Regions from separate parts of the Homo sapiens genome. Here region 2 is linked to region 1. A link means that fine-mapping ties the variant in region 1 to the expression of a gene that starts in the linked region. Tissue or cell type: whole blood. Region 1 holds a variant in brackets; the other region holds the start of a gene. All regions are shown on one strand. Distances are between the middles of the regions.

Region 1 (5,147 bases):
AATGTACTAAGCATTTTATATACATAATATCACTTATTTCTTATTTCTCACAACAAATCTATAAGACAAGTAAAAACTAAGGGACAGGGAGGAAAAGCAACTTACTCCAGGACACACAGCATGTTTTAAGCATAGGGTCTAGGATTTTTTCCTAATTAAACTTTTAATTTTGAGATAATTATAGCTTCACATGCAGCTATAAGAAATAATATAGGCCAGGCAAGGTGGCTCACGCCTGTAATCCCAGCACTTTGGGAGGCTGAGGTGGGCTCATTTGAGCCCAGGAGTCATAGACCAGCCTGGGCAGCATAGGGAGACTCCATCTCTACAAAAAATGTTTTAAAATGAGCCAGGAGTGGTGGCACGCGCCTGTGTTCTTAGCTACTTGGGAGGGTGAGGTGGGAGGATAGCTTGAGCCCAGGAGGCCGGGGCTGCAGTGAGCCATGATTGTGCCACTGCACTCCAGCTTCGGTGACAGAATAAGACCCTGTTTCAAAAAAGGAAGGAAGGAAGGAAGGGAGGGAGGGAGGGAGGGAGGGAACAAAGAGATCCTGTGTACTCTTTACCTAGTTTCCCCCGATGGTAACTTCTTGAAAAAATACAACACAGTATCACAACCAAGATATTCACATTGATACAGTCAAGACACAGAGTATTTCCAACACTACCAGGATTCCTCATATTGACCTTTCAATAGCCAACCCCACTTCCTCCTGCCTCTACCTCCTCCTTTACACTGGTAATTCTGTCTCCATTTTTATAATTTTGTCATTTCAAGAATTTTATATAAATAAATCATACAGTGTTTAATCTTTTGAGACTGGCTTTTTTTCACTCATCATGATTCTCTGGAAATTCATCCAGATTGTTCCAAGTATTCATATTTGTTCTCTCTCTTTTTTTTTTTTTTTTTTTTGAGACAGGGTCTGGCTTTGTCACCCAGGCTGGAGTGCAGTAGCGCAATCAGAGCTCACTGGCATCACCGACCTCTCTGCCTCAAGTGATCCTGCCACTTCAGCCTCCCGAGTAGCTGGGACTACAGGTGTGTGCCACCATGCCCAGCTAATTTTTGTAATTTTTTGTACAAGTGGAGTCTCCCTGTGTTGCTCAGGCTGGCCTTGAGCTCCTGGGCTCAAGTGATCCTCCCACCTCAGCCTCCCAAAGTGTTGAGATTACAGGCATGAGCCACAATGCCCGGCCTCGTTTCTTTTTATTTCTGGGTAATACTCCATGCTGAGTGGTATTCTGTGGATGTACCATGGTTTGTTTAACCATCCACCTATTGAAGAACATCTGGATTGTTTCCAGTTTGGGGATACTACCAATAAAACTGCTTTAAACATTCAACTACAGGTTTTTGTCTTAATGTAAGTCTTCATTTCTCTGGGATAAATGCTCAGGATTGCAATTGCCAGGTTGTATGGTAGCTGTGTGATTCTTTTTTTTTTTTTTTTTTTTTTTTTTGAGATGGAGTTTTACTTTTGTCGCCCAGGCTGGAGTGCAATGGCAGGATCTTGGGTCACTGCAACCTCCTTCTCCTGGGTTCAAGCGATTCTTCTGCCTCAGCCTCCTGAGTAGCTGGGATTACAGGCTCCCACCACCACTCCCAGCTAATTTTTGTATTTTTACTAGAGATGGGGTTTCACCATGTTGGCCAGGCTGGTCTCAAACTCCTGACCTCAGGTGATCCACCTCCCTCAGCCTCCCAAAGTGCTGGGATTACAGGCACAAGCCACTGTACCCGCCTATGCGGTTCATTTTTTAAGAAACTGACAGGCTAGCCACGGTGGCTCACGCCTGTAATCCCAGCACTTTGGGAGGCCGAGGCAGGTGGATCACCTGAGGTCAGGAGTTCAAGACCAGCCTGGCCAACATGGTGAAACCCCGTCTCTACTAAAAATACAAACGTTAGCCGGGCATGGTGGTGAACGCCTGTAATCCCAGCTACTCAGGAGGCTGAGGCAGGAGAATCACTTGAACCTGGGAAGCACAGGTTGCGGTGAGCCAAGATTCCGCCACTGCACTCCAGTCTGGGCGATAGAGCGAGACTCTGTCTTAAAAAAGAAAAAGAAAAAGAAACTGACAAAGTTTTCCAGAGTGCAGGGCCCAGGATTTTAATCACACTATTCTACTGCTTATAAATTAACCTATAAAATCTTTTATTTTTAAAAGAATAAAAAGAAATTTTCTTCCTGTTATGGCTGTGATGAACTTTAGTAAGCATACAGTAAACAAAACAAAACAAAACAAAACAAAAAAAAAAACAGCAATATAAGTTATTTTTTATTTTAAAAACTCTTCACAGGACACTTACACATTGAAATACATACAGCCAAGGGCTGCTGAGCTGTTGGCCTTCCGGAAGCTTAAGCACTTCATCTTTTCTCTGGCATGTGGTCTCTGTGGGTCCTCAGATGCCAGGATCACATGTTCGCTGCTCACTGAGCTCTTAGGAAGCCCCTGTGCTACCCTGTAGGCAGAAATTATCCTTTTTGAATCAGGTAAGTAACAGAAACCTCCTCAGCTTTAAGCTAGAAAGGGAACTCTCTTTCTGAAGGTACAGGA[G/A]GTGCAGCTGACCCATGCAAAGGACTGGAGTTAGGAAATGGAGAGTTCTGCAGATCCAATCAGCCAGCCCAGGGGGCCAGTCCCATGGTGCAAGTGTAGTTGCAGGCAAACAAAATAAGATCTTGGGCTCAGGAGTCCAACAACTTGAGTTGAAATCCTGGTTCTACCACTTACAAGCCATGTGACCCTAGGCAAGTTACTTAACCTCTCAGACCCCAGTTTCCTTATCTTAAAATGGGGTAATAAGCCTGGGCAACATAGTGAGACTTTGTGTCTCTCTAAAAAAAAAAAAAAATTTAGCCAGGCATGGTGGCACCCACCTATGGTCCCAGCTACTTGGGAGGCGGAGGTGAGAGGAACACTTGAGCCAGGGAGCTTGAGGCTGCAGTGAACCATGATTGCACCACTGCGCCCCACCAGGGTGACAGAGCAAGACCCTGTCTAAAATAAAATAAAATAAAATAAATAAAATAAAATAGAATGGGGTAATAATTGCATCTACAGTATTAGGTTCATATGGAGATTAATGAGTTGATGCATATAAAAAATGCTTTAAAGGAGTCAGGCAGGCCGGGCGCAGTGGCTCATGCCTGTAATCCCAGCACTTTGGGAGGCCGAGGCGGGCGGATCACCTGAGGTCGGAAGTTCGAGACCAGCCTGACCAACATGGAGAAACCCCGTCTCTACTAAAAATATAAAATTAGCTGGGCATGGTGGTGCATGCCTGTAATCCAAGCTACTCAGGAAGCCGAGAGAGGAGAATCGCTTCAACCCAGGAGGCAGAGGTGGCGGTGAGCCAAGATCGCGCGCCATTGTACTCCAGCCTGGGCAACAAGAGGGAAACTACGTCCCAAAAAAAAAAAAAGAGAGAGAGAGAGAAAAAAGGCCGGGCGCAGTGGCTCACGCCTGTAATCCCAGCACTTTGGGAGGCCAAGGCGGGCGAATCACAAGGTCAGGAGATCGAGACCATCCTGGCTAACACGGTGAACCCCCGTCTCTACTAAAAAAAAATACACAAAAATTAGCCGGGCGTGGACTCCATCTCAAAAAAAAAAAAAAAAATAGGCAGAGTGGCTCATGCCTGTAATTCCAGGTACTTGGTAGGCTGAGGCAGGAGGATCCCTTGAGCCCAGGATCAAGTACGAAGTGAGCTATGATTGTGCCACTGCATTCCAGCCTGGGTGACAGAGCAAGACCATTTCTCTTTTTTTTTCTTTTTTTTTCTTTTTGAGACGGAGTCTCTCTGTCGCCCAGGCTGGAGTGTGCAGTGGCGCAATCTCGGCTCACTGCAAGCTCCGCCTCCCGGGTTCACAGCATTCTCCTGCCTCAGCCTCCCGAGTAGCTGGGATTACAGGCGCCCGCCACCACGCCCGGCTAATCTTTTGTATTTTTTTAGTAGAGACGGGGTTTCACCATGTTAGCCAGAATGGTCTGGATCTCCTGACCTCGTGATCCGCCCGCCTCAGCCTCCGAAAGTGCTGGGATTACAGGCTTGAGCCACCGCGCCTGGCTGACCCTTTCTCGAAAAAAACAAAACAAAAAAACAAGTTCCTGGCTGGGCGCAGTGGCTCAAGCTTTTAATCCCAGCACTTTGGGAAGCCAAGGCAGGCGGCGGATCACCTGAGGTCAGAAGTTCAAGACCAGCCTGACCAACATGAAGAAACCCCGTTTCTACTACAAAAATAGAAAATTTTCCCGGCGTGGTGGCGCCTGCCTGTAATCCCAGCTACTCTGGAGGCTGAGGCAGGAGAATCACTTGAACCCAGGAGGCGGAGGTTGTGGCAAGCCGAGATTGTGCCACTGCACTCCAGCCTGGGCAACAAGAGTGAAACTCCGTCTTAAAAAAAAAAAAAAGTTCCTGTCATGTAGCAAGTGCTAATGCTAGGTATACAGTATTATTATTATTCCAGGATTAAATGAGAAGGCACATAAATTGCAGCACAGTAATGGCAAGTGTTCAGTATACATTAGCTAAATGTTAGCTTTCAGTATTTTTGAACAGCTTTATTGAGATATAGTTCATATACTATACAAATGCACATTTCATTGCTTCTTAGAATGTTGAGTTGTGCAACTGTCACCACAATCAACTTTAGAACATTTTGATTACCCTCAAAATAACCCCTGTGCCACTTAGCCATCACTCCCCCACCCCTTACATCCCTCCAGCCCTAGGCAACCACTGATATACTTTCTGTTCCTATAGATCTGCCTATTCTGGACATTTCATATGCCTCATTCCTTTTTATTGTTGAATAATATTCCATATGTGGATATACCACAAGTATTAATTTTTATAATCAATAATCCATGCAGTGGCTGAACATGGTGGCTCACGCCTGTGATCCCAGCACTCTGGGAGGCTGAGGCCAGTGGATCACAAGGTCAGGAGTTCGAGACCAGCCTGGCCAATATGGTGAAACCCTGTCTCTACTGAAAAATACAAAAAATTAACCGGGTGTGGTGGCACATGCCTGTAGTCCCAGCTACTTGGGAGGCTGAGGCAAGAGAATGGCGTGAACCCAGGAGGCAGAGCTTGCAGTGAGCCGAGATCGCGCCACTGCACTCCAGCCTGGGTGACA
Region 2 (5,147 bases), 47 kb before region 1:
TAAGATAGGAGTTTGATTTTTTTTTTTTTTTTTTTTGAGACAGGGTTTCGCTCTGACACCCAGATCGTGCAGTGGCACGATCTCAGCTCACTGCAACCTCTGCCTCCCGGGTTCAAGCGATTCTCCTGCCTCAGCTTTTCGAGTAGTTGGGACTACAGGCGTGCACCACCACGCTTGGCTAATTTTTGTATATTTAGTAGAGATGGGGTTTCACGATGTTGGCCAGGATGATCTTGAACTCCTGACCTCAGGTGATCTGCCTGCCTTTGCCTCCCAAAGTGCTGGGATCACAGGCGTGAGCCACCATGCCCACCCAAGGAGTTTGATCTTAATTCTGTAGCTGATGAAATACCAGTGAAGCCTTTTGATCTGGACTTTGACATTACATAGTAAATTTTTTTTTTTTTTTGAGACAGAATCTCACTCTGTCACCCAGGCTAGAGTGCAGTGGCACGATCTCGGCTCACTGCAAGCTCTGCCTCCTGGGTTCACGCCATTCTCCTGCCTCAGCCTCCCAAGTAGCTGGGACTACAGGCACCCGCCACCACGCCTGGCTAATTTTTTGTATTTTTAGTAGAGACGGGGTTTCACCATGTTAGCCAGGATGGTCTTGATCTGACCTCGTGATCCGCCCACCTCGGCCTCCCAAAGTGCTGGGATTACAGGCGTGAGCCACCACGCCTGGCCACATAGTAAATTTTTTAAATGAAAGCTGAAGCTGACACAGGGTAGTTTAGAGAGGAAGTTGATGCAAAGGAAGATTCCGTGACCAAGGGCATATGATTGTCAGGACATTTTGCTAGGTGACATAGAGCAGGAGATGGATGTCAAGATGTAGACCCTGCCAGCCAGGCGCGGTGGCTCATGCCTATAATGCCAGCACTTTGGGAGGCTGAGGCGGGCAGAGCACAAGGTCAGGAGTTCGAGACCAGCCTGATCAACATGGTGAAACCCTGTCTCCACTAAAAATACAAAAATTAGCCGGGTGTGGTGGCACTTGCCTGTAATCCCAGCTACTCAGGAGGCTGAGGCAGGAGAATTGCTTGAACCTGGGAGGCAGAGGTTGCAGTGAGCCAAGATCGGGCCACTGCACTCCAGCCTGGGAGACAGAGTGCGACTCTGTTTAAAAAAAAAAAAAAAAAAAAAAAAAAGATGTTGACCCTGCCCTCAAGGAGTTTACAATTAAAAAGATCAGATAAGCCAGACTCAGTGGTGCACACCTGTAACCCCAGTGATTGATTTGGGGGGCTGAGGAGGGAATATCGCTTGAGCCCAGGAATTTGAAGCTGCAGCGTGCTATGATCATGCCACTGTACTCCAGTCTGGGTGACAGAGCTAGACCCCATCTCTAAAAAACAATACTAATAAAAAGAAAAAAGGGTCAGATAAAACATGTACATAGAAAATTACAATACAAGGCAGAATGTGGCTGGACATGGTGGCTCATGCCTATAATCCTAGCACTTTGGGAGGCTGAGGTGAGAGAATCGCTTGAGCTCAGGAGTTTGAGACCAGCCTGGGCAACATATTGAGACCCTGTCTCTATTTACTAAAAAACAAAAAACAAAAACAAAAAAACAGAAAACAAAAAAACAAAAAACAAAAAAAACTAGGTAGAATGTGATACATGTGAAAAGAGATCCAGCTCAAGTGCCTTGGGAGCTCAGGGGAGGGTGAGATTAATCTCTTTTTCCCAAGAATCTGGAGGCAGGAAACCAAGTCGGTTTCATCTTTGGAATTGTAAGCTTAGACTTAGAAGTCTCAGAGGGGGACTTGGGGGTCTTATCCACCCTCACCCCTGGCAGGATTCCCTGTCTAGAATAAACAATAACTTTAAAATGGAAACAAAAAAAGGAGCTCTGAAGGAAAACTGTGAAGGAAGAGGCTCCGTTTGAAATGAATAGAAAATGAATTTAGCTTGGAGGTGCTGAGGTGTTGGTAGAGGCAACTTTCTGGCAAGAGGCGAGTTGAAGGCCAGGAAGTGAATGAGATCAGGGAGAGTGTCTGGAGGGAAGAGGGGCAAAAACAAACTGGGGAAGCACCCACGTTTTAGGAAGTGGGTGGTGAAAGAGGAGTCAGAGAAGGCCAGAGGGAGAGGTGAGCAAAGATCCAGCAGAACACCTTGTTACAAAGTTTCGAGGAGGGTGGGAGGGGTGGAAGCCAGGACGGGTAGCAGAAGGAAGAAAACTTCCAGCAATAGGGATTGAGGTTCCACACGAAGTTACCAATGACATTTCAAGGAATGAAGGCTTTTCCTGAGGCTCCACAAATAAGGTGAATTCCCTGTGTCTCGCATCTTTGGAGCTTCCCCGAGGCCAGGGGGAGCAGGGTTGTGCCCTCTGACCTCTAAATATCTGGGGTTCAGTTCTATAATTAGCAGCACCGGATAGGACGCGAGCCAAACCTCTCTTAACCCTAGCCAGTCCCTCCAGGAACTGAAAAGATGAAGAATTCATTTAGGAGATTTCACACTCGGCTGTTTGGCCTAGCCCAGTGAAGTCCCTTTTCATCACGCAACCCTAATGACTCTTAGGGCTGTCACTGCCGTCTGGTGTTGCCAGGGATCTGACTAAACCGTCTTGCAAAAGTTTGCAGCATTCACCCGAGGCGGACTACAACTCCCAGAATTCCGGGCGCTCCCCGGTGCTGATTGGCGGAGCCCGTGACTCCAGGGGGCGGAGTTTCCCCCGCCTCCCCGGGGAAACAGACCTCTGATTGGCTGGACCGCCGGGCTTTTGTGTCCCCGCCCTCCCCCGGGGACCGCAGCGGGCTGAACTGCTGGTGTCAGAGCCCGGCGAGCGCTGGCAGTTCCGCGGCGGGGATGCTGAGGAGCGCTGGGTCCGGGAGCAGCCCTGGCCCCTGCGGACTTCCGAGGCCGTGAAAACCCCTGCGCTGCGGCCCTTCCCAGGCCCCCGAGGCCGTTCGCCGTTCCCGAAGCCCGACTGGGGGAAGAGTCCAGCACCAAAGCGGCCGTTCTCGGATTCCGGAGCGTTCTGGAGCCCCGAGAGACGCCCCGGGGTTCTAGAAGCTCCCCGGCGGCGCCCAGTCCCGGCTTCATTCGGGCGTCCCTCCGAAACCCACTCGGGTGCACGGGTCGTCGGCGAGCCGCGACCGGGTCCTGGCGCGCACCATGATCGTGGCGGACTCCGAGTGCCGCGCAGAGCTCAAGGACTACCTGCGGTTCGCCCCGGGCGGCGTCGGCGACTCGGGCCCCGGAGAGGTAAGCGGCGGCCGCGCGACGCCCCTCTTCCCTGGAACCCCGAACCGCGTCTGAGCCTCAGGCTGTCCGGAGCTGAGTCGGTGTGTCCTGGGCTCGGGGAGGGAAAGCCGAGCGCGTAACCCGGGACCCGGGTTGCATCAACTGGCAGCCGCGGCCCTCGGCACCCCTCCCCCACTCTGTCTCCCCTCTCCCTCCTTCTCCCCCTCCCTCTCCCCCTCCTCCCTCCCTCTCCCCCTCTCCCTCACCGCCCCACCCCAGGGCCGCGGATCCTTCCTCGGCTCCCTCGGACTCCTGGCCAATGAGGGAGAAGCCTTCTGGAGGCTCTCCGAGCTTTGGGCTCCTGAGCGTCTTCAAGTCCAGGCAAATCCCGGCCGGAGCGGCCAGACCACTCCTCCTCCCCGCCCCCTTCCGCGGAGTCCCTTCCTCTTCGCGGGGGCCGGCGGGCAGAGGACCCTTCCTGGGGTGCCTCCCGGCTCCTGTCCCCCAGCGCGGGGCGTAGGCACCTGGGACTGGCCAGTGAAAGTCGACCTCATCCTATGTCCACCGCACTCCTGCTTTGGAGGGAGAGCGCAGGGGCTCTGGGGGCTTGGCGGGCCGCCCGGTACGCGGCGGCGGCAGCCAAAGCTGGGGGGAGAGGGGACAACCCTGGTCGCGGCTTCCGAAGCCAAGCGCGGGTTAGGCTGCGCCCTGCTAAGTAAGTGGTCTGAAGGCCCAGAAGTTTGTTTTCCAGAAATTCCTCCCCCACCCTCCCTTCGCGCCGCTCCCCTCCACCCCCCCGCATTCGCATCCCGGCATAGCCCGCAGGGGCTTTGCAGGGAGACCGGGAATTAGGCTGGACCTAACCAGACTGACAGTTCGCACTCCCCCACCACTACCAGCAGCAGCGATAATGGACATCTTATCATTTATTATGCACCTACTAGATACCAGGCTCTGAGTTTTTTTCGCCTTTAACCTAAGTCCTCAGGACTAAACCAGCAATACAAGCTACGCTATAGCCCCATTTTACAGGAAGAACATTGAGGCCCACGATGGGCTCAGAAAGAGGCTTTCTTCATTAACCCCACTGAATATCTTGTTCTTTGGCCTTATGATTTCGGAGATTGCACGGCACTAGGAGCTTCTAGTTGCTTTAGTTTACAGGCCTAGAGTGTGGTGGAAGTTGTATTCTGGACCTGGGATTTGGTGGAGTGCTATGACCCCAGGAAAATCCCTGCTTTTCTCTTAGTAACGTGGTTTCTGGGGATCCTACCTCCGTCGGTGTATAGTTTGTGCCCTGGTTTTTGTTAGCTTGCTTACCCTTCTCTGCCGTGATTTAGGAGCGCCATGTGGAGGAATGGCTCTTCTCCTGCAGCTTCTCAGCTGTGTGACTTCTTTGGAAAGATGGAAATAATGTTACTATTGAGAACACCTGAACACTAGAGAGCAAGAGTGCTGGGTTCATGTCCCAGCCCTCCTGCTAACTTGCAGTGTGTGGCTTAGCCAGTAATCACTTCTCTGATCTGTGGTTTCTTCCCATGGGGATTTTACAGTATCTCTAAGGGATTGTTGGGAGAATTAACTCAGAATACAAGCAAAAGCTGAAGCACTGTGACTGGAACATAGTAACTGCGTGATACTTGCTTGCTATTATCAGAACGTGGCCATGGCACGCACAGCTTTCTCCAGAGTGTCTCACAAGGGGGTGCCTGAGCCTGTTCCTGAGATCAGACACTGTACACCCCTCTCTGGGTCAGTGCCTGGTCTAGGGAGAAAAGGCTTTGAGGGAGGGATCTTTACACAGAAGCCATGTTTCCTCAGTGGAGAAAACTGCTGCTATCTGGGAGGTTTCTTTTTCTTATCTTTTTTTTTTTTTTTTTTTGAGATGGAGTCTTGCTCTGTTGCCCAGGCTGGAGTGCAGTGGCACGATCTCAGCTCACTGCAACCT

What was found. PIP is the estimated chance that this variant, and not a neighbour inherited with it, causes the effect.
Region 2: SESN2 starts here. The variant in region 1 is fine-mapped to the expression of SESN2 in whole blood (TOPMed, PIP 0.93).

Annotation. Positions count from the first base shown.
Region 1 is chr1:28,304,102-28,309,248 of GRCh38, forward strand. No RefSeq gene overlaps it. Among named protein-coding and RNA genes, the nearest start is that of MED18, 22 kb to the right of the region's middle. The variant G/A (reference allele first, on the strand shown) is at 2,566.
Region 2 is chr1:28,256,718-28,261,864 of GRCh38, forward strand. It overlaps SESN2 (sestrin 2), which reads left to right and starts at 2,801. Exons shown (of 10, transcript NM_031459.5): 1 at 2,801-3,220. The coding sequence starts at 3,131. RefSeq lists enhancers at 2,372-2,551, 2,544-3,392 and silencers at 2,662-2,871, 3,652-3,711.